Linked DNA regions of Homo sapiens. The protein of the gene in region 1 purifies or fractionates together with the protein of each later gene. This does not show direct contact. Each region holds a gene or a part of one and is shown in the gene's direction. Other genes may lie near its edges.

What was found.
Region 2: the proteins of MRM3 (region 1) and ZNF131 purify together in Homo sapiens (affinity purification with mass spectrometry; 3 studies listed by BioGRID and IntAct, with this or other methods). This does not show direct contact.
Region 3: the proteins of MRM3 (region 1) and CPT2 purify together in Homo sapiens (affinity purification with mass spectrometry; 2 studies listed by BioGRID and IntAct, with this or other methods). This does not show direct contact.
Region 4: the proteins of MRM3 (region 1) and PMPCB purify together in Homo sapiens (affinity purification with mass spectrometry; 3 studies listed by BioGRID and IntAct, with this or other methods). This does not show direct contact.

The regions. Positions count from the first base shown.
Region 1 is NC_000017.11:777,533-785,366, forward strand, and holds the start of MRM3 (rRNA methyltransferase 3, mitochondrial isoform 1 precursor), read left to right. Parts: upstream 1-4,820; 5' UTR 4,821-4,846; coding exon 4,847-5,160; intron 5,161-5,550; coding exon 5,551-5,795; intron 5,796-7,834. Other genes in the region: GLOD4 (glyoxalase domain-containing protein 4), read right to left, coding at 1,090-1,212, 3,082-3,206, 4,634-4,723. UniProt on the Homo sapiens protein: S-adenosyl-L-methionine-dependent 2'-O-ribose methyltransferase that catalyzes the formation of 2'-O-methylguanosine at position 1370 (Gm1370) in the 16S mitochondrial large subunit ribosomal RNA (mtLSU rRNA), a conserved modification in the peptidyl transferase domain of the mtLSU rRNA.
Region 2 is NC_000005.10:43,158,893-43,165,915, forward strand, and holds part of ZNF131 (zinc finger protein 131), read left to right. Parts: intron 1-2,356; coding exon 2,357-3,039; intron 3,040-7,023. UniProt on the Homo sapiens protein: Plays a role during development and organogenesis as well as in the function of the adult central nervous system. May be involved in transcriptional regulation as a repressor of ESR1/ER-alpha signaling.
Region 3 is NC_000001.11:53,192,687-53,199,823, forward strand, and holds the start of CPT2 (carnitine O-palmitoyltransferase 2, mitochondrial isoform 1 precursor), read left to right. Parts: upstream 1-4,137; 5' UTR 4,138-4,257; coding exon 4,258-4,409; intron 4,410-7,137. UniProt on the Homo sapiens protein: Involved in the intramitochondrial synthesis of acylcarnitines from accumulated acyl-CoA metabolites.
Region 4 is NC_000007.14:103,293,350-103,300,438, forward strand, and holds the start of PMPCB (mitochondrial-processing peptidase subunit beta isoform 1 precursor), read left to right. Parts: upstream 1-4,085; 5' UTR 4,086-4,110; coding exon 4,111-4,209; intron 4,210-5,218; coding exon 5,219-5,359; intron 5,360-6,093; coding exon 6,094-6,180; intron 6,181-6,828; coding exon 6,829-6,958; intron 6,959-7,089. UniProt on the Homo sapiens protein: Catalytic subunit of the essential mitochondrial processing protease (MPP), which cleaves the mitochondrial sequence off newly imported precursors proteins. Preferentially, cleaves after an arginine at position P2.

The DNA.
Region 1 (7,834 bases):
TAGGGAGGCTGAGGGAGGAGAATTGCTTGAACTCAGAAGACAGAGGTTGCAGTGAGCCAGGATAATGACCCCGCACTCCCACCTGGGTGACAAAGTGAGATTCTGTCTCAAAAAAAAAAAGATACTGGAAAGCCGCTGCTTCATCTAGAGCATGTACTTATTTGCATTTGTGGCATAATATGAAACATATCTGGTCATTGTCCCTGGTTCCTGTCTCAGAGCTCCCAAAACCTCTGGAATTTCCTGATAGGAATATCTTTTGTTATATTCATAATGAGCCCCTTTCAGTCACACCTGAGTTTATGCTAATGAAGTGACTTAGAGTGGGGCCTCTACATAGACTCAGGATGGGGCTGGTCACCAGAAAGACAAATGATTAGAGGACTGAACTTTCAGTCCCATCCACCAACCTCTGGGAAGGAAAGGGATGGAGACTGGGCTCTATTAGGCTTGAACAATGAGACTCATGAGCTTCTGGGATGCTGAACGTAGGGAGGTGCTGGATTGGAGCCTGCCCAGAAGAGCATGGAAGCTCTGCCACCCACTCCCCATGCCCTGCCCTGTGTATCTCCTCTGTCCAGCCATTTCTGACTCGTACTCTTTATGATAAACCAGTAAATGTAAGTAAGTGTTTCCAGCGTTTCCCTTAGTTCCATGAGCCACTGTAGCAGACTATCAAACCCAAGGAAGCAGGAGCGGGAGCCCTGACTTGTAGTTGGTCATCGGAAATCCTGAAGATCCAGACTGTGACCGGCGCCTGACGTGGCGGAAAATCTTCTGGGACTGAGCCCTTAACTTGCAGGATCTGACATTAACTCCAGGTAGAGTCAGAATCAATTAAATAACAGGACAGCCGGCTGGTGTTAGAGAGCTGGAGAATCCCTTTGTGTCCCACAGGTGTTGTATGAGAGTGCAGAGAAATGTGTTCCCGACGCTCCTGAAGTTGCCTCCCTAATTTACTGCCTTCTTAATTAATTCCACTGCTTTATACTCATGAGAGTGCAGAGAAACAGTATGTGTTCCCGACGCTCCTGAAGTTGCCTCCCTAATTTACTGCCTCCTTAATTAATTCCACTGCTTTATACTCACTTTGAGAAACTGTCTTCTGTTATCCGGGTGTAGTCAGAGCCTAAAGGAGATTTTAAGAAACAAGGTATCATACCCATTACAGGCAGCTTTGCAGCCTTCTTCAAATTCCTCATGCCGCAGAACCTGGTGTGAGATTTAGAATAAATTGTGAAGTGTTGCTAGTACTGCTCACAGCGTCTTTAGCACAGACTAAAATGTCAAAACACAAACATTATCATTTATAAGCTTTACTTGTAAAAGAACAAAAGCAAATGAGCTTTACACTTCTCCCAGGATAGAAGCAGTGGAAGGACGAACAGCTTGACACCAAGGGTCAGGCTACCAAATCAGTTGTGAAATCTATTTAGATTGGTAAGCAGTGCTATGCAGTGGGAAAAAGTGTGGCCTTCAGCATTAAAGAAGTCTGATTTGGGCCGGGCACAGTGACTCACGCCTATAATACCAGCACTTTGGGAGATCAAGGTGGGTGGACTGCCTGAGGTCAGGAGTTCAAGATCAACCTGGCAAACATAGTGAAACCCCGTCTCAACTAAAAATACAAAAATTAGCCAGGCGTGGTGGCGTGTGCTTGTGATCCCAGCTACTCAGGAGGTTGAGGCAGGAGAATCACTTGGACCATGAGATGGAGGTTGCAGTGAGCCGAGATCGTGCCCCTGCACTACAGCCTGGGTGACAAGAGCAAAATTCCATCTCAAATTAAAAAAAAAAAAAAAAAAAAAAAAAAAAAGATGGGCATCGTGGCTCACGCCTGTAATCCCAGCACTTTGGGAGGCTGAGGTGGGCAGATCACCTGAGGTCGGGAGTTCGAGACCAGCCTAGCCAACACAGTGAAACCCCATCTCTACTAAAAATATAAAAAATACAAAATTAGCCAGGCATGGTGGTGGGCGCTTGTAATCCCAGCTACTCAGGAGGCTGAGGTAGGAGAATTGCTTGAACACGGGAGGCAGAGGTTGCAATGAGCTGAGATTGCACCATTACACTCCAGCCTGGGTGACAAGAGCAAAACTCAAACTCAAAAAAAAAAAAAAGTCTGATTTGGAATTCTGTCATTTAGTAGTTGTGTAACTCTGAGCAAATTAGAATCTGAGTCTCAGTCTCCTAACATGTGATGGGAATGGATGTTATGAAAGCATCTCACAGAACCCTGCACACAGCGGGCTCTCAACGTGTTAGCTTTAGCCCTCCTTTTTGATTCCCACGGCTCCTGCCAGTTGAAGTTCCCAACGCTTCGCTCAGACTATTAAAAATCATCCTTATTGGCCGGGCGCGGTGGCTCACGCCTGTAATCCCAGCACTTTGGGAGGCCGAGGTGGGTGGATCATGAGGTCAGGAGATCGAGACCATCCTGGCTAACACAGTAAAACCCCATCTCTACTAAAAATACAAAAAATAAGCAGGGCGTGGTGGCGGGCGCCTGTAGTACCAGCTACTCGGGAGGCTGAGGCAGGAGAATGGTGTGAACCCAGGAGGCGGAGCTTGCAGTGAGCCGAGATTGCGCCACTGCACTCCAGCCTGGGCGAAAGAGCGAGACTCCGTCTCAACATAAAAAAAATAAAAAATAAAAAATAAAAAAATCCTTATTGATATCCTTCCTTAATAACACCAAAAAAGCACATGCCTAAAGCACAAAGCACTGATCCCATCACCACCCTGTTTAAGAACATAAGTGAGCTCCCATCTTACTGCAGCATAAAATCCAAATTCTTTAGCATAGCATTCAAGATACTATTAGAAGCAATGCCGACCTGTCCATCCTGATATCCCATCTCCTTAACTTCAACTAAGCAACCTCAACTAAAGGCACATAAAACCAGCGGCTTCGCAAACATGTGCCATCTCCGCACTGGCTCTTCAGTTTTACTATGTAGCTCCTCCTCTCATCTACCTGTGGATATCCTATCTTTAGACGTCAACTCGAATCCTGGCTAACACGGTGAAACCCCGTCTCTACTAAAAATATTTTTAAAAATTAGCCGGGTGTTGTGGTACGCGCCTGTGGTCCCAGCTACTCGGGAGGCTGAGGCAGGAGAATGGTGTGAACCCGGGAGGCTGAGCTTACAGTGAGCCGAGATCGCGCCACTGCACTCCAGCCTGGCGACAGAGCAAGACTCCACCTCAAAAAAAAAAAAAAAAAAAAAAGTCAACTCGAATACAAGGTCTACATGAATTATTTCCTCATCACCCAGGTTGGAAAACCGCTCCTTCTTTTGTATTTTTATAATAGTGGCTAACACTTATATAATCTACTATTACCGATATGTTAAATACTATACATATAATAAGGTGTTGAATCTTTTTTTTTTTTTTTTTTTTGAGACGGAGTTTTGCTTTCGTCATCCAGGCTGGAACACAATGGTGCGATCTCGGCTCACTGCAACCTCCGCCTCCCAGATACAGGCGATTCTCTTGCCTCAGCCTCCCGAGTAGCTGGGATTACAGGCGTGTGCCACCATGCCCGGCTAATTTTTGTATTTTTAGTAGAGACAGGGTTTCACCATGTTGGCCAGGCTGGTGTCCAACTCCTGACCTCCAGTGATCCACCCGCCTTGGCCTCCCAAAGTGCTGAGATTACAGGCGTGGGCCACCGCGCCGGCACGTGTTTAATCTTTGCAACAACCTTTTGATCGACGAGGAAATACTAACAAGGGACAGCTCTGTGGTTTCTGCTATCGAAAGTTTGGTGGTTTTTCACTATCAAATTCTGACTTCCATTACCATCATCTACGTACAAATCCAGTTCCAACTCCCACCCCAACCCAGGCCATGAGCTCTAATGGAGGATATATATCAGGGTCATTTGCACCTTTGTTGCCAAAACTCAACGTAGTACCCTGAAAATAGCAGATATTTTAAAAATGACCTGACGAATTCAGATCCCCGTCTATTGCACCGTCTATACACTAAACCGCGCTCTTGCACCTTTCAAGTCTTCCTTAGTGGTGTGTTCCCTACCTCCCTGGCTTATCAAAGGAGGTCCCCAAAACCCAGTTCCCCAACCAACTGAATCCTGCAAATAACAGCTCCTCAGGACCCGAGACAGACCGCTTCTGGGTGCTGTTGAAAAGCAGATGGGTTGAGAGTTGGAGCATATATTCAGAGACTGAGTATCCGAAACGGACTATTCAGACCAGCCTTGCTAGAAGCAGAACTCTGAATACGCTGATTTTATCTACATCAAAGGCTCCAAACCGGAAAACACAAATATTAACTAGAAAGCATTATATAACATTTTATTTACCGTCTTTTCCGGTAGACGGTAAGCTCCACAAGGGCGGGGCTCAATAAACGTTTACGAGTGGCTTAAATGAAAGGACGTGCGTGGGCACACCGCGGGGACTAATCGTGTTAGGCCCTTCTCCAAGGCCTATGATCCCCAACGGCAACTCGCCACGCTCCTGAAGCTGAACACCGCGCAGGGCCTAAGGTCGGACACCCTCCGGCTTAGGTTCACGACACACCCATTTTCCCCTCCCTCCGCCAGGGCCGGCTCGGGCGCCGGTTCCAGCCTCGCGCGCCAGCCCCTGTCGGCCCCGGCCTGCACCTTCATCCCCAGGACGTCCCGATAGAAACGCGCCGTCTGGAAGCGGTTTCCCACTTTGAATACGAAGTGCAGAGCTCTGCGAGCAGCCATGATTCCCGCCGCACGCAGCCGTCACGCGCACCGTACAGCCCAGTCCACGAAGGGCGCCACGGGCCGTGACGTCACTAGCCGCCGACGGCGCGCTTTCGTGACGCAGCCCGGGTCTCAGGGAACATGGCGGCGCTGGTGAGACCCGCGAGGTTTGTCGTGCGACCGTTGCTGCAGGTGGTCCAGGCTTGGGACCTTGACGCGAGGCGCTGGGTCCGGGCGCTGCGGCGGAGCCCAGTGAAAGTGGTGTTTCCTTCCGGAGAGGTGGTGGAACAGAAGCGCGCTCCTGGGAAGCAGCCCCGCAAGGCACCATCTGAGGCCAGTGCCCAGGAGCAACGAGAGAAACAACCGCTCGAGGAGTCCGCATCCCGCGCTCCCAGCACCTGGGAAGAGTCTGGGCTTCGCTACGATAAAGCTTATCCCGGGGACAGGAGGCTGAGGTGATGTGGTTCTTGAGCCTGTCGAATGTTCTCGTTTCCCTTCCCGTCGCACAGCGGAACCTTAACCTCCTTCCGATGGAGGACTTCTTCCAGTACAGCCCGCTGGTTTTTGTATTATGCACAGAGGGCCGAATAAGCGTCTTTGGAATTAGCTTCTGTTTCTCCTTAGCTCTTTGTTGTTGTTTTTGTTTCACCATGTTAGCCAGGCTGATCTGGAACTCCTGACCTCAGGTGATCCGCCCGCCTCGGCCTCCCAATGTGCTGGGATTACAGGCGTGAGCCACCGCGCCCGGCCCTCTCCGTAGCTCTTTATTTCTGTTACAACTAAGCGTGTCTCAGTAACAAGGATGTTGATAGTTACCTGTTTTTTTTTTTTATTTCCATCTACAGCAGTGTAATGACAATAGTAAAGTCCAGGCCATTTCGGGAAAAACAAGGGAAGATCCTGCTGGAAGGTCGCAGGCTCATTTCAGACGCTCTCAAGGCTGGAGCTGTGCCAAAAATGTTCTTCTTTAGCCGTCTAGAATACCTAAAGGAGTTGCCAGTCGATAAGCTGAAAGGTGTCAGCCTCATTAAGGTGAAATTTGAGGATATCAAGGATTGGTCCGACCTCGTAACGCCACAAGGAATAATGGGTTAGTGATTACCCAGTGTATCTTTTTTTTTTTTTGTCTTGTTCTGTCACCCAGGCTGGAGTGCAATGGCGCGATCTCGGCCCACTGCAACCTCCGCCTCTCGGGTTCAAGGGATTCTCTTGCCTCAGCCTCCGCAGTAGCTGGGATTACAGGCGTCTGCCACCATGCCCGGGTGATTTTTGTATTTTTAGTAGAGGTGGGGTTTCACCATGTTGGCCAGGCTGACGTCGAACTTGTGACCTCAGGTGATCCTCCTGCCTCGGCCTCCCAAAGTGCTGGGATTACAGGCGTGAGCCACCATGCCTGGCCTTACACAGTGTATCTTAAGGTGTGGAGACCTAGGATTAATTTCTCATACTTGTCTTAGGACAGCAGCATTGAAATGAAATTCAAAATGTTACAATTAGAAAAATATAATTCTCAAACCTGTGTATCTTAGAGTATTTTCAATGGAAATTGAAACCCGTTTTTCACTATCATTTGTGTTGTGGCTCTTTATGGTCTCTAGGAAGAACCACTATTCCTCAAACCTTCTATTTTTTAGATTACTTCTTCAACTTTCTATGTCAGATTAAAAATTAAGAAAGCGTTTACTGAAAGATTGAGCCCTTCATTTTTGCAAAACCTCTGCCAATGTGGTGATAACTGTCAATAAACTGCTTATTCCAGAAGCAGATCTAAGAAGCGAGGTACAAGCCACAATTTACTGCCCCGTTTAGCCCAATAAACAGAGAACCTTGTCTTCTAGTCTGTTCCTTCATTTGGCTGAATCTGACTTAACCTTATGTAACTCCGATGTTGATTAGCAGTTACAAAGTCTTTGGTCTAAATATGAGAAGATAAGTTTTTCATACGTTTTTGACATGGGAGTTTTAAGATATGAAAACTGAATCCTTGAACTGCTGAGAGAGGAGATTCTGGGGAACCATCTCTTGTCTCTGTAACCCAGTGAGTCACAGGGATCTGTGCCTCTGCACTCAGAGCTCTTAGATCCTAGGATGGGGACTTGGATTACTAAAGTACCTAGAATTACTCATGCTAAGTAACCATATTCTCACTAGCTACAGCCCTCTAATCCACACGCCATGCTTCAGTGAAAGTGTTATTCATTTTTACCGTGCTTGTCACTTGGGGCAGGTGTGCTCACAGTGGCCAGCCCATCTTGAACTTGTGCTTGTCACTTGGGGCAGGTGTGCTCACAGTGGCCAGCCCATCTTGAACTTGTGCTTGTCACTTGGGGCAGGTGTGCTTACAGTGGCCAACCCATCTTGAACTTCATCATCATACCTGCTTTCATCATTTCCTGGCTTATCCTTATGTTACTATATTTTAGATTTGAGGGCAGGGAATAAGGGAGAAATGGATAGGAACTGGCAGCACCTGTCAGGCTTTAGACAGACACTCCCCAGAATCCAGCGACATAAGTAGGGCCTCCGTATAGTGGGTTCTCATCACCACAGACATCCAAGTAGAAGTAAAGGACTTCTAAGGTCCTCAGCCCTACTGAATGGCTTTTGGCCATCTGTGACTCCGAAGTGGAGGCTCTCTCACAGCACACAGACGCCTAATACCCTTCCATTGCCTTCAGTGGTGGATAGGCTTTTTACCTGCACCATCTTTTAGAAAGAATCCTAAATCTTTGATTGTATCATGTTTCAGTACAAGTACTATTTCATTCATCTCCTGACTTCAGTCAGTAGCCCATTTATTGTAGCAATCATATACGACAAAATACTAGTAAGATTCAAAAAAACTGTACAGTCCCTTGGGAGCAGACTACAAAGGGATTGAATATTTGATAATTATACATAAAGAGTTTAGGGTAGTGCTTGGCTTAAAAAAAAAAGCTTACTAAAAGGTTATCATTATCACCTCTACCAGTAAACATGGTGATTCAAAAAGAAACTTGTGGATATGTGATACACCCATGTGAATAACTTCATCTATACCACAGCAATTTCATGTACTCAAAGCCATTTTTAATATTGTTATTAGCCTTTTTCCAATTTTTCTCTTTTCCCATAAATTCTTTCCATAAA
Region 2 (7,023 bases), on another chromosome or scaffold:
CAAGAGCTATGAGATTTTACTCTACTTGCAAGCCTACAAGTTTTCCTGCCACAGTGTCATGGATGCTGGAAGAAGATAGAAGACTTCTGAGTCAGAAAGAAAGGACCTTATTACTCTCTACATAGCAAGCAGTATAAATTTCATTTTTATACCAGTTTTCCCTTCCCCTCAAGTCCCACAAGAGTGACATAGAGTGGCCCAGGTGAATGCATAAGATTGATTTATATTATAGCTGAAGAATCTCCAGCTTAGGAATCTCAAAATTTTTATAGTGGGCTACAAACAAACCTGCCTAACGTTTTTTCCAGAGTGGGGGCATTCTCTTTATTATATTGGACAATAAACCTGCCCTTTCATCTACTATACTATACTGCAAACATCCAAACCGAAAGTTTTCAGTTCACAAGATGTGAGGAAACTGAAGAGACTCAAGGAGAATTGTCTCCCAACAGGTGTCGTCTTTTACTGAGTTTACTGAGTTGTGAGAATCCTTTCTTCACTCTAGATATAAGATCTTTAGGCTGGGCACAGTGGCTCTTACCGGTAATTCCAGCACTTTGGGAGGCCGAGGTGGGCAGATCACCTGAGGTCAGTAGTTCAAGACCACCCTGGCCAACATGGTGAGACCCCGTCTCTACTAAAAAATACAAAAATTAGGCGGGCATGGTGGCAGGAGCCTGTAATCCCAGCTACTCAGGAGGCTGAGGCAGGAGAATCACTTGAACCCGGGAGGCAGAGGTTGCAGTGAGCCAAGATCGTGCCACTGCACTCCAGCCTGGGCCACAAGAGAGATACTCTGTCTCAAAAAAAAAAAAAAAAAACCAAACAAAAAATTTGACAGATAAATGTTTGCAACTATTTTCTTCTGGCCTGTGGCTTGCTTTTTTATTAACTGTATTTCAGAGGGCAGTTTTTAATTTTGATGAAATCTATTTTATCAATTTTTGCTGTTATGATTTCTGCCTTTCTTATGCTGTTTAAGAAATCTTTCAGCTGGGCAGGCTGGGCGCGGTGGCCCACGCCTGTAATCCCAGCACTTTGGGGGAGGCCAAGGCGGGCAGATCACAAGGTCAGGAAATCGAGACCATCCTGGCTAACACGGTGAAACCCCATCTCTACTAAAAATACAAAATATTAGCTGGTCGTGGTGGCGGGCGCCTGTAGTCCCAGCTGCTTGGGAGGCTGAGGCAGGAGAATGGCGTGAACCTGGGAGGCGGAGCTTACAGTGAGCCAAGATCACGCCACTGCACTCCAGCCTGGGTGACAGAGCGAGACTCCATCTCAAAAAAACAAAACAAAAAAAAAAACAAAAAAAGAAGAAATCTGTCAGCTGGGCACAGTAGCTCATGTCTGTAATCCTAGTACTCTGGGAGGCCGAGGCAGGAGGATCACTTGAGCCCAGGAGTTCAAGACCACCCTGGGTGACATAGTGAGACCTCGATTCTATCAAAAATAAAATTAGCTGAGTGTGATGGCACGCATCTATAGTCCCAGCTGCTTGAGAGGCTGAGGTGGGAGGATCACTTGAGCCCAAGAGGTTGAAGCCACAGTGAGCCAACATCACACCACTGCACTCCAGCCTGGGTGAGAGAATGAGAAATCTTTCACTAACCAATGTCACTAAGGTCTTCTCCTGTTTTCTTCTAGAAATTTACTAATTCTTAAATTTAGGTCTGTGACCCATTTTGAATTAATTTTTCATGTATGATATGAGGTAAAGGTTGAGGCTTATTTTTCCCATACACATAATTGTTCTAGCATCACTGTTAAATGATTAGCTTGGAACTTTTTTTTTTTTTTTTTTTTTTGAGACAGAGTTTCGCTCTTGTCGCCCAGGCTGGAGTGCAATGGTGCGATCTTGGCTCACCCCAACCTCCGCCTCCTGGGTTCAAGTGATTCTCCTGCCTCAGCCTGCCGAGTAGCTGGGATTACAGGCATGCCACCATGCCCAGCTAATTTTGTATTTTTAGTAGAGACGAGATTTCCCCATGTTAGTCAGGCTGGTCTCAAACTCCCAACCTCAGGTGATCCACCTGCCTTGGCCTCCCAAAGTGTTGCGATTACAGGCATGAGCCACTGCACCTGACTGGCACCTTTTTTTCCCCCATAAAAATCAGTTGACTAAGCGTGGGTCTATTTCCATGGACTTTATTCCATTAATCTTCGTGTCTATGCTTTCACCAGTACTATTGTCTTAATTACTGTAGCTTTAAGTCTTGAAATCAGGTAGGATAAGCCCTGCAGTCTTGTTTTATAACTGTTTATATAAATTTTATTGCCACTTTATCAGTTTCTTCAAAAAAGCCTGGTAGGATCTTCTTATAGATTTTTTAAACCCCTACATTATGTATTTCAGGAACAAAGAAAACTCAGCTCCCTTAGAGGAAAATACCACAGGAAAAAATGAGGCCAAAAAAAGGAAGATTGCAGAAACTTCAAATGTTATCACTGAGTCATTGCCATCTGCAGAATCAGAACCTGTTGAAATTGAGGTAGAGATTGCCGAAGGCACCATTGAAGTGGAAGATGAAGGCATCGAAACATTAGAGGAAGTGGCTTCTGCCAAGCAGTCCGTAAAGTACATACAGAGCACAGGTTCCTCTGATGATTCTGCTCTAGCACTGTTGGCAGATATTACCAGCAAGTACCGTCAAGGTGACAGAAAAGGGCAGATTAAAGAAGATGGCTGTCCATCTGACCCCACGAGCAAACAGGTAGAAGGTATTGAAATTGTGGAACTTCAGCTGTCACATGTGAAGGACTTGTTCCATTGTGAGAAATGTAACCGTTCATTTAAATTGTTTTACCATTTTAAGGAGCACATGAAATCACACTCCACTGAGAGTTTCAAGTGTGAAATATGCAATAAACGATATCTTCGAGAGAGCGCATGGAAACAGCACCTAAATTGTTACCACCTTGAAGAAGGTGGAGTCAGTAAGAAGCAAAGAACTGGGAAAAAAATTCATGTATGTCAGTACTGTGAGAAACAGTTTGACCATTTTGGACATTTTAAAGAACATCTTCGAAAACATACAGGTAATGAGCAAATACTTTGTTAAAATTTTTTTTTCCCACATGCACTTCAAATTTAAGTATCTAAATCCTTTTTAAAAAAATAGTGCCTCAGAAGCCATCTCATGTATTATCTCTAATGTGTAGGCTAAGTACACGTTTTTATAGTATTACCTGTTCAAATATTGGTGCTTTAAATGCAAATCAGTATCAACTTTGGAAGTAATTGTTACTTTTATGCCTTGCCCAATTTTTATATTTTTCAAAGAAATAGAGAAAATAGTTTGTGACTTATTTCCTAAAGATCGTAAATAATTAAATCTTATAGTGAGACTTTACCATTTCTATTTTTACATTTCTTGTGTCGTGTTACTTACAGTACATTTACAAGCAATCCCTGACAGCCAGGCGCGGTGGCTCATGCCTGTAATCCCAGCACTTTGGGAGGCCGAGGCAGGCGGATCACCTGAGGTCAGGTGTTCGAGACCAGCCTGGCCAACATGGTGAAACCTCATCTCTACTAAAAATACAAAAATTAGCCAGGCGTGGTGGTGGGCACTCATAGTCCCAGCTACTCTGGAGGCTGAGGCAGGGGAATTGCTTGAACCCGGGAGGCAGAGGTTGCAGTGAGCCGAGATCATGCCACTGCACTCCAGCCTGGTCAATAGAGTGAGACTCCATCTTAAAAAAAAAAAAAAGAAAAGAAAAAAAAGCGGCCAGGCGCGGTGGCTCACGCCTGTAATCCCAACACTTTGGGAGGCCGAGGCGGGTGGATATCTGAGGTCAGGAGTTCAGAGACCAGCCTGACCAACATTGTGAAACCCCGTCTCTACTAAAAATACAAAAAATTAGTTGGGCATGGTGGCAGGCACCTGTAATCCCAGCTACTTGGGAGGCTGAGGCCGGAGAATTGCTTGAACCCGGGAGGCAGAGGTTGCCATGAGCCAAGATCACGCCATTGTACTCCAGCCTGGGCAACAAGGGCAAAACTCTGTCTCAAGGGAAAAAAAAAAAAAAAAAAGCAATCCCTGACATGTTTATACTTCTTTTCTTTTATTTGCCTTTTTTTTTTTTTTTTTTGGCAGATGGAGTCTCGCTCTGTTGCCCAGGCTGGAGTGCAGTGGCACGATCTTGGCTCACTGTAACCTCCGCCTCCCGGGTTCAAGCGATTCTTCTGCCTCAGCCTCCTGAGTAAGCTGGGACTACAGGCGAGCACCACCACGCCCCTGGCTAATTTTTGTATTTTTAGTAGAGACGGGGTTTCACCATATTGGTCAGGCCAGGGTGGTCTCAAACTCCTGACCTCGTGATCCGCTAGCCTCGGCCTCCCAAAGTGCTGGGATTACAGGCATGAGCCACCACATCCGGCCCATGTTTATACTTTTTAATGTACATTGAGTTACCTGCTTTGGCACAGTAGGTTAGTAGGCAGTATATGTTCATCTCTCTCCACCTTTTCAACAGCAAATATGTCAGGCCTGGCGGACATCCAGGGAGCTGAGGAGAATAAGGTCTTTATACTTCTCCTGGGAGCCATGCAGGCATGATGGAAATGTCCTGAGAAATCTACCTCAGGGCCTCGCCCCACATAGTTCTTCATCCCCTATTCCAGTCGTCTCCCTGTCAAGAGTCCCTGACCTTGCTCAGGTTTCTTGCTTGCTCCCACTCCCCGAACAACCTTTGCTGGGTCTCCTACACCAGACACAGTAGCTACCACCAACGAATTGAATCTTGGATAGTTCCTAAACCTACTATTACAAGGGTATGGAGAGAGCAGTTAATACAGCATGCTAAGTATTAGACTTCTGGACATTTGTTCCCAAGTCTTTGTTATATGTGGTGGTTAAGGCTGTTTAGACTGTTAATACAGTAAATACAACATAGATAGCCTACAGTATTCAGAATCTTTCTCTTTGATGCTGGAGTTTGGAGAGCTTCTGGTAAAAGTTTTTTAAAATAGGTTTGTCACTGTCAGTTGGTATACATCACTTGAAATTAAGGAACCACATAGATTCAGATGATGTTATCCCCCTCACTGTCCAAACTTACTGTCAGTATTCGAGGACTGAGTAAATACAGGAATAGCAAAGGGATCTTGTACTTAAGGCTCAGTATGGATTTAAAAGTCTTTAAGGTACTTAGTTTGGATAACTAATAGGCGTTTATGAAATCTTTTGGGAAAATGCTTTCTGATTGCAAACATGTATATATACAGTCTACTTTTGAACAACGTGGGTTTGAACTGCTTGCATCCACTTACATGCAGATTTCATTCAACTAAATATGGATCAAAATTATAGTATTCCCAGGATGCAAAACCCATGTATGTAGAAGACCAACTTTTAGTATGTGTGGTTCCACAGGGCCGGCTGCAGGACTTGAGTGTGCGTGGATTTTGCTATACGAACCAATCCCCCGCATATACCAAGGGACGCCTACCTGTTTTATATAATATTTGGAAACTGCCTACAGTTACAATTTTTGGTCCTTAGAAAACGAATAATAGTCTGTTGGTGAACATTTTTGTGGTAATTGGGTTAATTATGCAAAATGATTGTTGTTATACCAGCAGCACAATAAACAAACATTGGTAAGTAACTTGCAAACTTTGATAGCAGTTTCCAATACCCCAGCAGATAATCAGGATAATCAGTAGCTTTTATAGCCTATGAATGTGAAAGTAGCCGCAGTTACCTCTTTTACCCAAAACATTGCCTACTGACTTTTACCTCTTAGAAAATAGGACAACACGGACCACTTTGGACATCTTTAAATGTGCCTCTCAGGTCTTAGATTTTTTATTTTGGTTTGGACAGCAGAATATAGGGTTAAAGTACATTATGTTGTATGTCTTTGTCTTTCCCTTAGAAATGATGTGAGATAAGTAATTTAAGTAGTTGTTATAAATTACTGAACCATATACCCATTGGAGGAACAGTTGAGCACATAAAGCAAACCGAACCCCCACTTCATTGTTTTTTAACTTCAACCAATTTCTATACTGGTAATTAGTTCCAAGATAGTTGTTGTTCTCTTCTCTCCTCTCCTCTCTCTCTCCTTTGAAACAGGGTCTTGCTGTGTTGCCCAGGCTGGAGTACAGTGGCGCGATCATGGCTCACTGCAGTCTCGACCTCCTGGGCTCAAGTGATCCTTCTACCTCAGCTTCCTGAGTAGCTGGGACTACAGATGTGTGCCACCATGCCCAGCTAATTTTTCTGTTTTTTGTAGAGATGTGGTTTCACCACGTTGCCTAGGCTTGGAACATAGGCATGAGCCACCATGCTTGGCCCTGTATTTCTTTTTTTTTTTTTTTTAGCTTTAACAACAGGAATTCATTTTCTCGCAGTTCTAGAGGTTAGAAGTCCAAGATCAATCTGCTGGTTTCTTTTGAGACCTCTCTCTTTGGCTTGCAGATGGCTAACCTGTGTCCTTACATGGTTTTATCCTCTTTGTGCATGCATCTCTGGTGTGGCCTTGTATTTCTTAATAAGACTGGAAAGTCAAAATTACTTCTTGATCTGTGGGCTGCAGAATGGCTGTTGTGTTTGCAGACTGAAAACAATATTAATCTCCTTGTACCTCTCCCTCTGAACTCTTGGGTGACCAGCTGCATTGTCAGTGAGCAGTAGTATTTTGAAAGGAGTCTTCTGAGCAGTAGGTTTCAACATTGGGCTTAAAATAGTCAATAAACCATGCTGTAAACAGATGTTCTGTCAACCAAACTTTGTTCTTCCGTTTCTGTAGCCCAGGCAGAGTACATGTAATAAGATTCTTAGGGACCCTAGGATTTTTGGAGTGATAAATGACTGATTGGCTTTAACTTAAAGTCACCAGCTGCATTAGCTCCCAACAAGAAAGTTATCTGTCCTTTAAAGCTTTGAAGCCAGTCATTGACTTCTCCCTAACTATGAAAGTCCTAGATGGCATCTTCCAGTACAAGGCTGTTTTGTCTACATTGAATATCTGTTGTTGAGTGTAGCCACCTTCATCAGTGATCTTAACTAGGTA
Region 3 (7,137 bases), on another chromosome or scaffold:
GTGTGTGTGTGATGGGGTCTCACTCTGTCACCCAGGCTAGAGGAGCATGATCATAGCTCACTCACTGCAGCCTCAAATTTGAGGGATCCTCCTGGGCTCAAGCTATCCTCCTGCCTTAGCCTCCCAAGTAGCTAGGACTGTGCCTAGCTAAAATACCAAACTCTTGATTTCAGCTCCTTTTGTCATCATTTGTCCATTTCTTCTACAATCTTAAATTTTTTTGACTGGGGTTTCTATGTTGCTGAATTTGGTGACATTTTCACTAACCCAGAACACACACACACACACACACACACACACACACACACACAGCCCCATTAAAGTTCTTTCCTTCAATGAAATTGGCAAAGGGGCATAAAGAAAACTGGAACCTAAGGACCCAGTGAGGAAGCAAAGTTCCACTTTCCACTGGAAACTGGTCTTTTACAATAATCCCATTGCACCTAGGAGCTGGACCAGGCTGTTATTTTAGAGTTTAAAAGTTGTCCTCCCTTCTTCTACCTGGCTACTGGCTTGGGGCTTTAGGTGGGTGAGGCCTACCTCCACAAGAAAAATCCACAGTGAAAATGGTGACAGTTGGAGGGTGCTGGAGTTGAGCTTAGCCTTCCTCACTTCAGAAGAGCTAAATGCATACAGGAGTGCAACAGAAGTCAGGAATCTATTGCCAGAGGGGCCAGAGAGGGGCAAGGGCCTTCCTGCTCTAGGGCCCTTCCCCAGAAGATGTTAGCTATGGGTCAAGTCTCTACCTCCTCCCCAACCCCCATTCTCCATTGCATCCTTGGAACCAGGAGCCCAGAAACCTGCCAGCCCAGATGACCAGGACCATGTTTGAGATGCATAAATTTGGTCCTCTGGATCCTTCAAAAGTACACTGTATTTGTCACTCCCCGTAGACCCTCATGCAATAAGTTCTTCATGCTCTGTACATCGATTCTTTTTCTCCAGCAGTTCTGAGCAATGCTTCAAAAACGAAACATCAGATTCCTTGTAAAGTTAAAAGGAACAGATTTTTTTCCCACATACCATGAATTTCTCATTGATTGGTTTAGTTACAATATCTAATGTGTCCACAGGTATGTTTTAAAAGTTCCTTTATGGGGCAGAGAGAGCATTTTTTTAATACTCTGGTTTCACTTTTTTGCATTTAAATACTTTCTCACATACTCAATATTTATAAAAGGGTTAGAGTTCATTTTAACAAATCCCATTAAATAGGCAGGGCTTTTCAAGGTCTTGCCTATGAATTTCCTCATTTCAAGCACTGTTTAGTCCAGGTAAGCTCCAATAGAACCTGAGAACTTGGGACTGCCAGGCCAACTCTAGGTACTAGTTCCTGACATTTCTTTGAATATTTGGGTGGTCACATTTGTTTTCTTTGGTCATACTTACCCAACTGGACCTCTTTTTTGTTGAAATGTGAACTCTACTGCTAGCCAGTTAAAGTTCATTGTTTTTCAGAACTTTGATTTTGAAGATGAATATGACTTTAACCTGGCCATCATGTACTGCTTTTTCATAGTTAATTCAAAACAGAGCAGAACTCTGGGGATTAGTTCAATAGAAACAATGTATTCTTCAGGATCTTTCTCTAAGTAGAGGAACTTTCTTGACCCTTACACAGCAATATATGGACTTTTTGGACTACCAGCTCATGGTTATTCTTAATGTGATCCAGACCCCAGGGCCATCCCCAGGAAAAGGAAGCAAAGCACCTCCCCACAGTAGGCCTGTGCTAGACACAGTGGACACACAGTGGAAACAAGGTCCCTGCCCAAAGACCTCAAAATTTATTGTGAGAGATGAATTGGTAATTAAATAGCTGATTATTTTAAAAGCCCTAATACAGTTGTGTTTCATGTACATAACTGTAAATGAATGTAAAAAGTGCTGTAAAATCACAGTGGGAGGGATTCATTCTTGCAGTGAGGAAGAAGGATGAGGATTGAGGAAGACTTCAAAGAGGTGAGTTTTGAAATAGGGTTTGAAGGACAAGTAAGAGTTTACTAGGCAGAGATGCATGGAAAGAACATTCCAGGCAGCAGAGACAGCTAAAATAAATAAATAAATAAGTCGCAGAGTAAGGAAAAGGATGGGAATGAGAAGTGGTTCAGTGTTACTACAGCATAGAGCAAGCTTGTCCAACCCACAGCTCAGGATGGCTTTGAATGAGGCCAACACAAATTAGTAAACTTTATTAAAATATGAGATATTTTTACAATTTTGTTTTGTTTTTGCTTATTAGCTATCATTAGTATTAGTGTATTTTATGTGTGGCCCAAGACAATTCTTCTTCCAGTGTGGCTCAGGGAAGTCAAAAGATTGGACACCCCTGGCATAGAGTATTTTGGGGTGACATGATGGGAGCTGGAGAAGTAGGTAGGGGTCAGAATTCAGAAGGCCTTGGACACCAGCCTAAAGGCTTAGAGTTGCTCCCATTGGCCATGCACTCACCAAAGGTGTTCACGTCCCTCTTTTGGCTGTTAGATTGGATGGGCTCAATCTTTTGGCCCTCTGTCTCTAGAATAGAGCCGCTGCTTTTCTACTGGGCCCACTATTTCTTCCTGGTCCTCTGATCCCCTTAGCACTACACAGATCTCGATATTTGCCTCGGGTATCAAGGCTCTGAAAATGATCAGGATTTAGAGGAGATGGCTCATTTTCAGAAAGAGTTTTATATTCTCCCTCTGGCCTTATACACTACAGGCAAATGGCACCGATGTTTTGGAGTTGGGCCAGTTGGGCCTTTTCTCCCCTCAAGAGAGGAGGATTCGATATTCAGTGTTTCTGAATTTCATGCTTAGTTCTTAAGCCATTTCCCATTTGCCCTAAGAAATAAGAGCTGGCAGCAAGCTGCGCTGTTTTTTTCTAAACGGGAAATGGGTTAAGCATTTGTGATCACCACTGAATGAGTGCCAGAGCTGGTTAGTGATCTTCCTGTTCAATCCGAGGTCACCTAACTAGATAACAAAGAGCTGAAACTAAAAGTCCGGTCTCCTGACTCCCAATCCAGTACTCTTTCTGGTGTGCTCCAGCTTCTGGCTCTGCTTAGCCAATTATGGAACAGACAGAATGTACTTGGCTGCCCCAAACGGCTAAAGGGCAGTTCTGTTCCCAAAATGGAATTCTGTTGTGCCTCAAGCTAGGCAGCATAATTGTGTGTCTTTTGGTAACTCCCTGTCTTCTTCTGTAAAATGGGAGTAGAGCCTACTTAATCCTGCAGCTACTTCTAAGATCAGGGATTGGGGCGTGGTGGGCTGTTCTGCAGCTGTTTTGTGATGGATGAGGGATGATAGATCTATGTTCAAGTAGCGGAATCTTAGAGTCAGGAGTTGGAAGGAATCTTGGAGGTGGTCTGTGGTGACAGGAAGCCTCTTCCAATAGACTGAACACGGAAGACTTCCTAGAGCCGGAGGACAAGGGTTTCTTTCCTCTTAGCAGTGAGCTTCTTGTTTTTGGAAATGCTCAAGCCAAGAATGGATGTTCAGGCAGAGGGGATTCCGCTCGGAAGGGGCTTTCTGCACTGAAGTGGTGGCCAGCGGGAAACTCCAGGTTTCCAACTCCTGCACAAATCCTTTCTAATATCCATCCACTCAGGTGAGCTGGCAGGGCAGTAGCTGTGCAGGGTTCAGGGTCATTATATGTCAATGACCTTCAGCACGGATTACTAACAACAGTAACATCCGTTACCGTTTACTGCTTTCCTATTAAGCACCATGCACTGTGCATAACATGTTATCTTTATCTCATATCTAGAATTTTGGGAGGTACTTTGAATCATTACGATCTATCTACTTCTTAGGTGAGGAAATAGAGGTTTAAAATTTAGTCCACAGTCTCGCAAGGATGGAGCCTGGATCAAATTTTGGGTTATCAGATTCCAATCACGTTTCTTAGCTTTTCTTTTTTTTTTCCAACTCCAGTTTCTGTCTTGCTCCAAAAAAGGGGAAGGAGCGGCTGCGGCGCTCGGTTTCCCGCCTCCTAGGGAAGGGAAGGGAGACGAGCAGCGCGGAGGCTGGGGCCCCCTTCCGGGCGGGGCCTACTAGTGGGCGGGGCCTGTCAGTGAGCGGCCCCTGCCCGGAAGGAGCCAGTCCGGGGCGGAGCCGATGGCCTTACAGGGGCCGGAAGTGGCCTGCGGGCGGAGAAGTGCCTCAGGAGTCCTGACGCAGTGTCTTGGGCGCTAACGGCGGCGGCGGCCTTGTGTTTAGACTCCAGAACTCCCCACTTGCCGCGTTCTCGCCGCCGCAGGCTCCCGGGACGATGGTGCCCCGCCTGCTGCTGCGCGCCTGGCCCCGGGGCCCCGCGGTTGGTCCGGGAGCCCCCAGTCGGCCCCTCAGCGCCGGCTCCGGGCCCGGCCAGTACCTGCAGCGCAGCATCGTGCCCACCATGCACTACCAGGACAGCCTGCCCAGGTGAGCCTGGCCTCCGGGTCCCCGCCGCCCGCCGCCGTCCCAGGATCGGCCCCAACCTGACTGCAGTCACTCATGACTCCTCTAGTGAACCCGTTTCCGCCCCCAAGCCCCTACCATGGAGGCTGCCACAGCCCCTAATCTGGAAGTCTTGGGACTTTTCACAATCTCCTAGCACAGGAACCTCAGAACCCTCAAATTCTCTTCCAGAACCCCTCGATGCTATCTCAGATTCTCCATCTTGAACGCTTCTCAGATTCCCTCTCCTTTAACCTAACTTCCAGCCAGCTATCCTGAGTCCTCTTCTCCCTGAAAAATGCCAGACCTGCATATTTCCAGCGCCGCTGTAATCCCTCGACTATGGTGTCTCCTGAAGTACTTTAATGACTGCCTCACATTCCTACCCGGAATATGGGTAGGCTGATTCCTAATACATCATGGTTACCATTCCTTAACTTCTCCCAGCACCGCCTTCACCCCTGTCACTCAGGACCCTCAGCCCCACCTCCCATTTCTCCAGTACTCTGTTCTTTCACCCCCCATGAGCCCCCACAAGCACAGCCCTGAAGTGTTCACCCTTGTCCTCAACTGACCCTCCCCCATGTTTTTAAATCTTTAATCTCCTAAATCCAGTGTTCACCCGGAAACCTTTCACTCTCTCCAAGCCCTCCTCAACAGGTTCCTCCCCTCAAAATATCCTTCCTCACCCACAGTACCCCTTGTAAGTGCAGCTCACCCTCACAGAATTCTAGACACCACCCTCAGTACCCCATCCACACTCCATCATACTCAGATCCAGGGTCCACCCAAATTTCTCTTCTCCTCCTCACCACTGGCTACCCTGCCTTCGAAACACTTCACCCAGAATCGACTTCCCCTCTGAAAAGAGCCCTAGTAAATCCTCTTCCCCTTCCCTCCCCCAGTACTTTCTTAAATCCAGCTTCCAGTTCTTCCAGCCTTCGAACTCCGCTTTCGTCTGAGTTGCCAGATCTCCTTCTTCAATATTAGAAATTTTCTTCACCCTCTAAACCAAACCTAAACTAACTTCTAACTTACTGAGTGAGTAACTCAGTTCCTGGAGCCAAGTTCAAAATTTGTCTCAAAGACCCTTCTCACCTTATTTCTCACCAAACTGCCCTCAGGGATTCCCCACACTCCAAGAGCTAGAGGCCAGGCTTCTTCCCCATGTGTGGAACATTGTGTCACAGGCCTCACCCGAGCTGCTGGGTTGTTTTTCTCTGCATCTGGGACCACTTAACCCAACGTCATCACTACATACCCTCACCCTCTCAGGAGGATCGAGTGATTCTTGTGAAATTACATTTTGTGCAAACATCTAAGACATGAAAATGAGATTATCTACACGTGGCAGGAGGGAGGAAGAAAAAGGGGCTTTGTGCCTGTGGCATAAGCCTGGTACATGCTTCCACCCTGTCAACCTGTGTGTATGAGCTGAGCCAGTATATGGGTGAAAGGTGAGGACTGACAGAACCTGTCTTCACTTGCCAAGTTCAGAGTCAGATGGTCACTGACTTTCAGGCAGGCCTGGGCCCCACCCAGGTTTAAGATCAGAGGGATTTTCTGCACTTTAGAATTGGAAAGCTGGAAAGAATATTCAAGATTATTTATTCCAACCCCATCCATAGCACAGTCTGTAGGAATCTGGAGGTACCAATTCAAACTCCAGTTCAAATAGTACCACTAGTCACCTACGCATAACCTTAAGCAACCAACCTCCCCCAGACCTCCATTACCTTATTTGTAAATTGGGAGTTAGATGAGAGATGAGATTCCTTCTGTCGCTCAGATTCTAGACTGGTAAAATGTATAATCTTTCACACTCACTCATTGATGTCACACTTGGTGAAAAGCCCTGACTTTGAGGTCTGGTAGAATGTAGTTGCAGATTCTGGATCTGCAAGTCTTTAGCTATAATTTGGGGCAATTCTGTTCACTTCATTGAGCCACAGTTTTATTTTGGTTTTTTTGAGACAGTCTCGCTCTGTTGCCCAGGCTGGAGTGCAGTGGCCCTATCTCGGCTCACTGCAACTTCTGCCTCCCGGGTTCAAAGGATCCTCCCGCCTCAGCCTCCCAAGTAGCTGGGATTACAAGCATGTGCCACCACACCCAGCTAATTTTTGTATTTTTAGTAGAGATGGAGTTTCACCATGTTGGCCAGGCTGGTCTCAATCTCCTGACCTCAAGTGATCTGCTCTTGGCCTCCCATCTGGGACCACAGGCATGCACCATCATGCCTGGCTGATTTTTTGTATCTTTTATAGAGACAGGGTTTCGCCATGTTGCCCAGGCTGGTCTTGAACTCCTGGACTCGAGCAATCTGCCTGCCTCGGCCTCCCAAAGTGCTGGGATTACAGGTGTGAACCACCGTGCCCAGCTTCACTCCAGAAATTTTTAAGTAGGACTTTTTTAAATCAAATTGCCATTGTCTCTAATCTAGAATTTTGTTTAAAAGGAAGAAGGTAAACTTTCATGAATATTCCTACTGTAATAAAACTAAATCTTAAACATATGTAGGCAACTGGAATTATGAGGTAGCTGAGATAGTATTTGGAATTTTTCTGAGTAAGTCAGTGAATGTAAGGGGATCTGTGGTGTTAAAGTGTTGTAAATGGGTACTTAGTGCAGTCTAAGTCCATAATGGCAGTAAATAATTGATTTATTTTTGTCATATTATGGATAAACATGCATTACAAATAAACTGATGAACCAC
Region 4 (7,089 bases), on another chromosome or scaffold:
GCATTATTTCCAATTATTGGCTATCATGAGTAAAGCTGCTATGAATATATGTGTAGATGTTTTTGTGTAAACTTCAGTTTTCATCTTTCTGGGATAAATGCCCAGGAGTTCAATTACTGGGTTGTATAATAAGTGGCTGTACTACTCTGGAGTTTTATATTCCCACTAGTAATGTATGAGTGATCTTGTTTTTCTATATCCTTGCCAGCATGTGGTGTTATTGCTGTTTTTCACTTGAGCCATTCTGCTACATGTGTAGCGATAGCTCATCATTTTAATTTGCATTTTGTAATGATTGATGATATTGGACATCTTTTCATGTGCTTATCTGCCATCTGTATTTCTCCTTCAGTGAAATGTCTGTTCATGTCTTTTGCCCATTTTTTTTCACTGTTTTTGAGAGGGTTTTTTTGCATAATTCAGACACAGGTCCTTTGCTGAATATGTGGTTTGCAAATATTTTCTCCCAGTCTGTAGCTTGTCTTTTCATCCTCTTAACAGCATCTTTTTTAGAGCAAAAGCTTTTAATCTTGTTTTTTTTGTTTGTTTGTTTGTTTTGAGATGGAGTTTTCCTCTGTCACCAGGTTGGAGTGCAGTGGCACGATCTCAGCTAACTGCAACCTCTGCCTCTCAGGTTCAAGCGATTCTTTTGCCTCAGCCTCTCAATACCTGGGACTACAGGTGCGTGCCACCATGCCCAGCTAATTTTTGTATTTTTAGTAGAGAAGGGGTTTCACCATGTTGGCCAGGATGGTCTCGATCTCTTGATCTCAGGTGATCTGCCTGTCTTGGCCTCCCAAAGTGTTGGGATTACAGGCGTGAGCCACCGCGCCTGGCTTTAATCTTGTTTTAAGCATTATATTTTTGATATCAGGTCTAAAAACTCCTTGTCTATTCCTATATCCCAAATATTTTATCCTACGTGTTTTTCTAAAAGTTTTATAGTTTTATGTCACATATTTGCATCCATGATTTATTTTGAGTTAATTTTTGTATAAAGTGTGAGGTTTAGGTTCATTGGGAGTTGGGGAGCGGGGAGCCGTGGATATGAACATCTAATTGTTCCAGCAGCATTTGTTGAAATGCTATTCTTCATCTATTGAATTGCCTCTGCACGTTTGCTAAAAATTAGTAGGGCATGTTTGCGTAGGCCTACTTGTGTCTTGAGATAATCACAAAAAAAGTAGAGGAAAATGACAAAGCTTTAAAAAGTTAGAGAGATGCTAATAAATATGAAGGACAGATAAAGTCATTCAGCATAAGGAGAGCTGCAGTCCTTGAAAAGATAACATACTGAATGGAATGCCAGAATATGTATTCAAAGAGACTTTCTCTAAAATGAAGGAAGAAGTGAAACTGCAGAATGAAAACATATTATGTTTTTGAAAATTTTGATAAAAATCACAACACAAAAATTACTCAACATTAAGATATAGCCTAGTTAAGTTACTGAACTTCAAGAATAATTTTTTAGGTTTTTAGGCAGATAAAACAGGTCACATTTAAGGGTGGTAAAAAAAGAAAAAATCTGGCTAGCCTCAGACTTCTCCAAAACATTTAACTCAAGAGCATAATGGAGTAATGTTTATAAAATTCTGAGAAAATGAAACTGTGACCCAACAATATTAAATCCAGACAAAAATGTCATTCAAGTATAAAGATAAAAGCAGACATCCTCAAACATGAAAGAATTAAAGGAATATGACATCCATGATTAAAATTTCCAAACAACAAAAATAGCAATGACTCTGCCAGTAAAATCCAGTCAGTGAAGAAATCATTTAAAATAGGCCAGGTGCAGTGGCTCACGCCTGTAATCCCAGCACTTTGGGAGGCTGAGGCGGGAGGATCACTTGAGGTCAGGAGTTCAAGACCAGCCTGGCCAAACTGGTGAAACCCCGTTTCTACTAAAAGTACAAGAAGTAGCCGGGTGTGGTGGTGGGCACCTGTAATCCCAGCTACTTGGGAGGCTGAGGCAAGGGAATTGCTAGAACCCCGGAGGCGGAGGTTGCAGTGAGCTGAGATTGCACCATTGCACTCCAGCCTGGGCAACAAGAGAGAAACTCCGTCTCAAAAAAAAAAAAAAGAAAAAAAGTTATGGATACTGTTGTGGGTGTAGGGCTATTTTGGGAGTAGTCAAATTCTTTGATTTCTTGGCTCTACTCTGGTGCACTTAATTTCTGTAGGCTTTATGTTCTAAGATATTGACTGTAAATAATGACTAATAAATTAATACCATGAAGTATATTAGAATTGAATACAAATTCTTGCTAAAACTTCCTAGGTGCTTCCTGTGATTATACCTACATGTTTTTGTATATATGTATGCATGTTTGTATTTATTTTTGGTTAACACACATTTGTTTTAGAAACATGAGAGAATAACCTTGGTCGTCCTTTATTACATTACATCATGAGTCTTGTGGACTGAACCTGCGAAGCATAGCAGCCGGGTAGGTGGAGGGAGATGAGTCTGGAAAGATAAATGGGAGTCAGATCATGAAGGGCCCCACCTGCCATGCTAAGGACCCTTTACTTTATTGTGACCAAGGGCTCCCTGATGGATTCTTCATAATGGGACTGCCGTAACAGTTTCATTTGTAAAAGATCCTATAGGTAGTAATGTGAAAAAACTGACAATGGGCCTGGAGTAGATTGAAGAGGCAGGAAAGGGGTGTATCAATTGAATGTGGAAGATGGAAAAAGAGAGGAGCTTCTGGGTGGTTTGGAGTTTTGGGCAAATGTAGGTATGATTGGCTGTTTGGCATTGCAAATATGGGAAGAGATTCAGGGGACACAGTGAATTCCCTTTTGGACAAGTTGATATTGAGTTTCCAATGGGGTATTCAAGTGTAGTTTCCTAGTAGTTGATGGTTAAGTGGGCTGGAGCTCAAGAGAAAGGCCTGGGTTGGGCAGACAGGTCTTGAAGTGGAGGGAAAAACCCAGAGGGAGAATGTTCAGTAGAAGAGGCTTAGAGTCCTGGCAAACACCAACTTTTAGGGCAAAATGTAGTGTTTCACAGCACAGTCTTTGGCGTTAACCTATTACTAGCAGGGTAACCTGGGGCAAGTTATTTGACTTCAGTGTCTTAATTGCAAAATAAGCACTATACCATCTACCTGAGTTAGAAAAGCATTTGCAATTTTTAGTTCCTTGAGAGATCTGTGGGCTGGGCGCAGTGGCTCACGCCTGTAATCCTAGCACTTTGGGAGGTGGAGGTGGGTGGATTACCTGAGGTTAGGAGTTCAAAACCAGCCTGACCAATATGGTGAAACCCCATCTCTACTAAAAATACAAAGTAGCCAGGCGTGGTGGCACATGCCTGTAATCCCAGCTACCTGGGAGGCTGAGGCAGGAGAATTGCTTGAACCCAGGAGGCAGAGGTTGCAGTGAGCTGAGATTGCACCACTGCACTCCAGCCTGGGCAACAAGAGTGAAACTCCATCTCAAAAACAAAAACAAAAACAAAAAACAGATCTGTGAATAAAGAGGAGTCCAAGAAGGTGCAGAGGGAACTATGAGGAGGTGGAGCTCTAGAATATATTGAGAAAAGAGAATTTCAAAGAAGCCAACAATGTCAAATCCTCCAACAGGACTGTAACATAAGTCTGTAAAGTGTCCAACTTTTAGCAATTAGTGACCTTACCAAGGGCAATTTCTATGGAATGAGATGAGCCATATTGTAGAGGTTCGAAGAGTGGATAGTGGTCAACACGGATACATCGTTTCCTCCCCTCACGGCATCTGTCTCTCCCACTAGACTTTTCCTTTAAAGGCAGTGACTTATGAATATTATTCCACTGTTTTCAATCAATTCCATCCACCAGTGAGATATATTGCATCAGGTTACCTTTCATTCCACCGCATTTGTGCCTTGCACTTAGTAGGCGATCGATAAAATAACTGATGATAAAGGGGCTTCTGCAGACTCCCCAATTCATTTGGTAAAGACCGCTCAGCATCATGGTCGGGCCCTGATTGCTTTCACAACCGCTTCGAGGAGTGTCATTCCCATCACGGCCACAAGGTGGAGCCCACCTCCCTGCTCTGGGACCTCAGGTCGCGACCCCGGAAGCACATCCTTCATCCTCTACCTTCCTTCTAGCAGAAATGGCGGCTGCGGCGGCTCGAGTGGTGTTGTCATCCGCGGCGCGGCGGCGGCTCTGGGGTTTCAGCGAGAGTCTTCTAATCCGAGGCGCTGCGGGACGGGTGAGCTTCCCTCCAGGCCGGTCCTGTCCTCGAGATCTCGCCAGACCCGGCGCAGCGCACCTGAGAGTCGGCGCCACAGATCCGAACAGTGGGTCGGGCAGGGCCTCCTCGACCCGGACCCGCCGGGCGCCAGGCGGCCTGGGGCTGCTGAACTGGCCGGGGGTGACTGGCTTGTGGCCACCCGCCAGGAGACCTGCTAGTGACGTGTGGGATGACCCTGGTTTTCGGCTCCTCCCGCCAGCTACTGAGGAGTGCATGTTTGACCACTAAAAACGTAGTGCTTGCAAATTGGGGAAAACTAAAAAGTGAAATGGGTACCGCTCCAGAGTTCTATTTTTGCCTAAGACTGAACTTCGTCCTCAGCTGGGCTTCCCGCGAACCTGGACATCAATGAAGTAAAATTTTTTATGTATTTGCATTTTTCTCATGAGAGAGCCTCTGACTTTAAGCAAAGGGATGTGAGACTTTTGTATAAGGGCAAAGAAAAACTGCTGAAAGGCGAATAGTTTCTGGCCGAAAAGCCAGTCATTTGCATTTTGAACATCGACCCATCTTCCTATCCTCTCTCTCTTTTTTTTTTTAACCATTTCCAAACCCTGTTGCTTTTCTTGAACAATGAAAACCCGAGTGTCAGTTTTGTCTTGTGTGTAGGTAGTTTTACATAGTTTCCCTCTCTTTTTTTTTTTCCTGCTTGTTTTCTCCATAATGAATATAAAACATTTCTAGGAGAGGTAGTGAAATAAAGTCAATTTCTCTCTGGGTAATGATAATAATTGCTCATCTTCCCTGAGGGAAGGGCATGTTTATAAACACGTTGCTGGCTTTAGGACAGTGGCTGGTGACAGATGTTTCTAGGCCAGGCAGAGATCTCAGTGGAACCAAAATTCAAGAAGAAAGATTCTTTTATAGAGACAGCCTATTTAAAATAGATTTGGTTTTAAAAGCAACATTTAATATCAGATTAGTAATGTGTTTTGCTTTGTCTCTTCCACTTCCTACCCCCAACCAGTCATTATATTTTGGAGAGAACAGATTAAGAAGTACACAGGCTGCTACCCAAGTTGTTCTGAATGTTCCTGAAACAAGAGTAACATGTTTAGAAAGTGGACTCAGAGTAGCTTCGGAAGACTCTGGGCTCTCAACATGCACAGTAAGTGACTCAGGCAACCTTCTCTAAGTGACCCTTCATTTAGCGTAGCAAATTGTTGATTTTAATCTTTAGCTTTTTCGTTGGCTGGTGGTTCAAAAAGGGTGACAGTTATTTTGCCTTGACAGATTTCCATGAGTTGTGAACCTTTTCTTCCAGTGGTACTTAGTTACAGGGTGCATATGTATCCTGTTGCATTGTCTGCATCTTGTTCTTGTAGCTTATTATTGATTATTTATTTTCAGTAGTATTGATAATAATGAAAGAAATATGTTTGCAGGGCTACTCTGCCAAGTGTTTTTACTGATGTCTTATTTGATAAAAAGCAATTGTTTGTAGTGGGCATCCTCACACCTGTTTTATAGTTAAGGAAGTGAGAGAAGTTAAATGGTTTTGTTCAGGTAACTCAGCTAATACATGACAGAGCCAGGATTTCAACCGAAGTTTTCTGACAGTCTCTGATGTTCTTGATACTACAGTTATTAATTGGCTGGATTAATGAGTTGGGCAAAGAATCCTCATTGAAGGTGGCAGGTAGATACTTGTAGCACCCAGCAGTATCCTGATCGAAATTTTTAAATCTCATAGTTCACAGGAATGAACTATCAATTCACTCAGGTCAAGAAAATCTTAGTGTTAAGACCAGAAAGCATTTGTCAGAAAAAGGAAGGAGACTGTTCCCCCCAACCTCAAATAAATAAAATGAATTTATTTAATTGTTCTTTGATTGCATTAAGGTTGGACTCTGGATTGATGCTGGAAGTAGATACGAAAATGAGAAGAACAATGGAACAGCACACTTTCTGGAGCATATGGCTTTCAAGGCAAGTTGTAAGACTTTACAAAAATGCACTCTCTTTAAGAGATAATAAGCACAAAGTCTCATTCTTTAGAGGCAGGGAGAGCTCTTTCAGTAGTATAACATGTTTTATGTTTATTTTTCCAGGACAGTATCTAAAATAAGTAGTGATAATTGCTTTGTAAAGCTGAAATGAAAACTTTCTCTTGGGATGCAGGAGTTATCTGAACGTATACCATTTCTGAAGCCTGATGTACCTTATTTTTTTTTATTTAATTTTTTTTGAGATAGGATCTGGCTCTGTTGCCTAGGCTGGAGTGCGGTGACGCAATCTGCTTACTGCAACCTCCGCCTCCTAGGCTCAAGCCATCCTCCCACATTTACTTCTGGAGTAGCTGGGAGTATCTATATATATATATATGTTTGTTTGTTTTTTCATAGAGATAGGGTTTTGCCATGTTGGCCTCGATCTCTTGGGCTCAATCTGCCTGCCTCAGCTTCTCAAAGTGCTGGGGTTACAGGTGTGAGCCATCGTACCATACCTGATGTACTTTAGAAACCAAATTTGACCCTGCATGAAACTAACTTATGTCCTCCATATTCATTATCTGAAGTAGAATAGATGAAGTATAAAGGGAGTTTGCATAATTTGTTTTTCCTCTTTTATTTCAAGGGCACCAAGAAGAGATCCCAGTTAGATCTGGAACTTGAGATTGAAAATATGGGTGCTCATCTCAATGCCTATACCTCCAGAGAGCAGACTGTATACTATGCCAAAGCATTCTCTAAAGACTTGCCAAGAGGTACTGTTATTATTTATACAGCAGATAATGTAATTTTCATGAGAATCAGGAATTATTTAGTACTATTTTTATTATGTCTGTTGTAAAAGAGTAAGTTCCAGAAATGTGAAAAAGCGAAACTGAATTCTGGG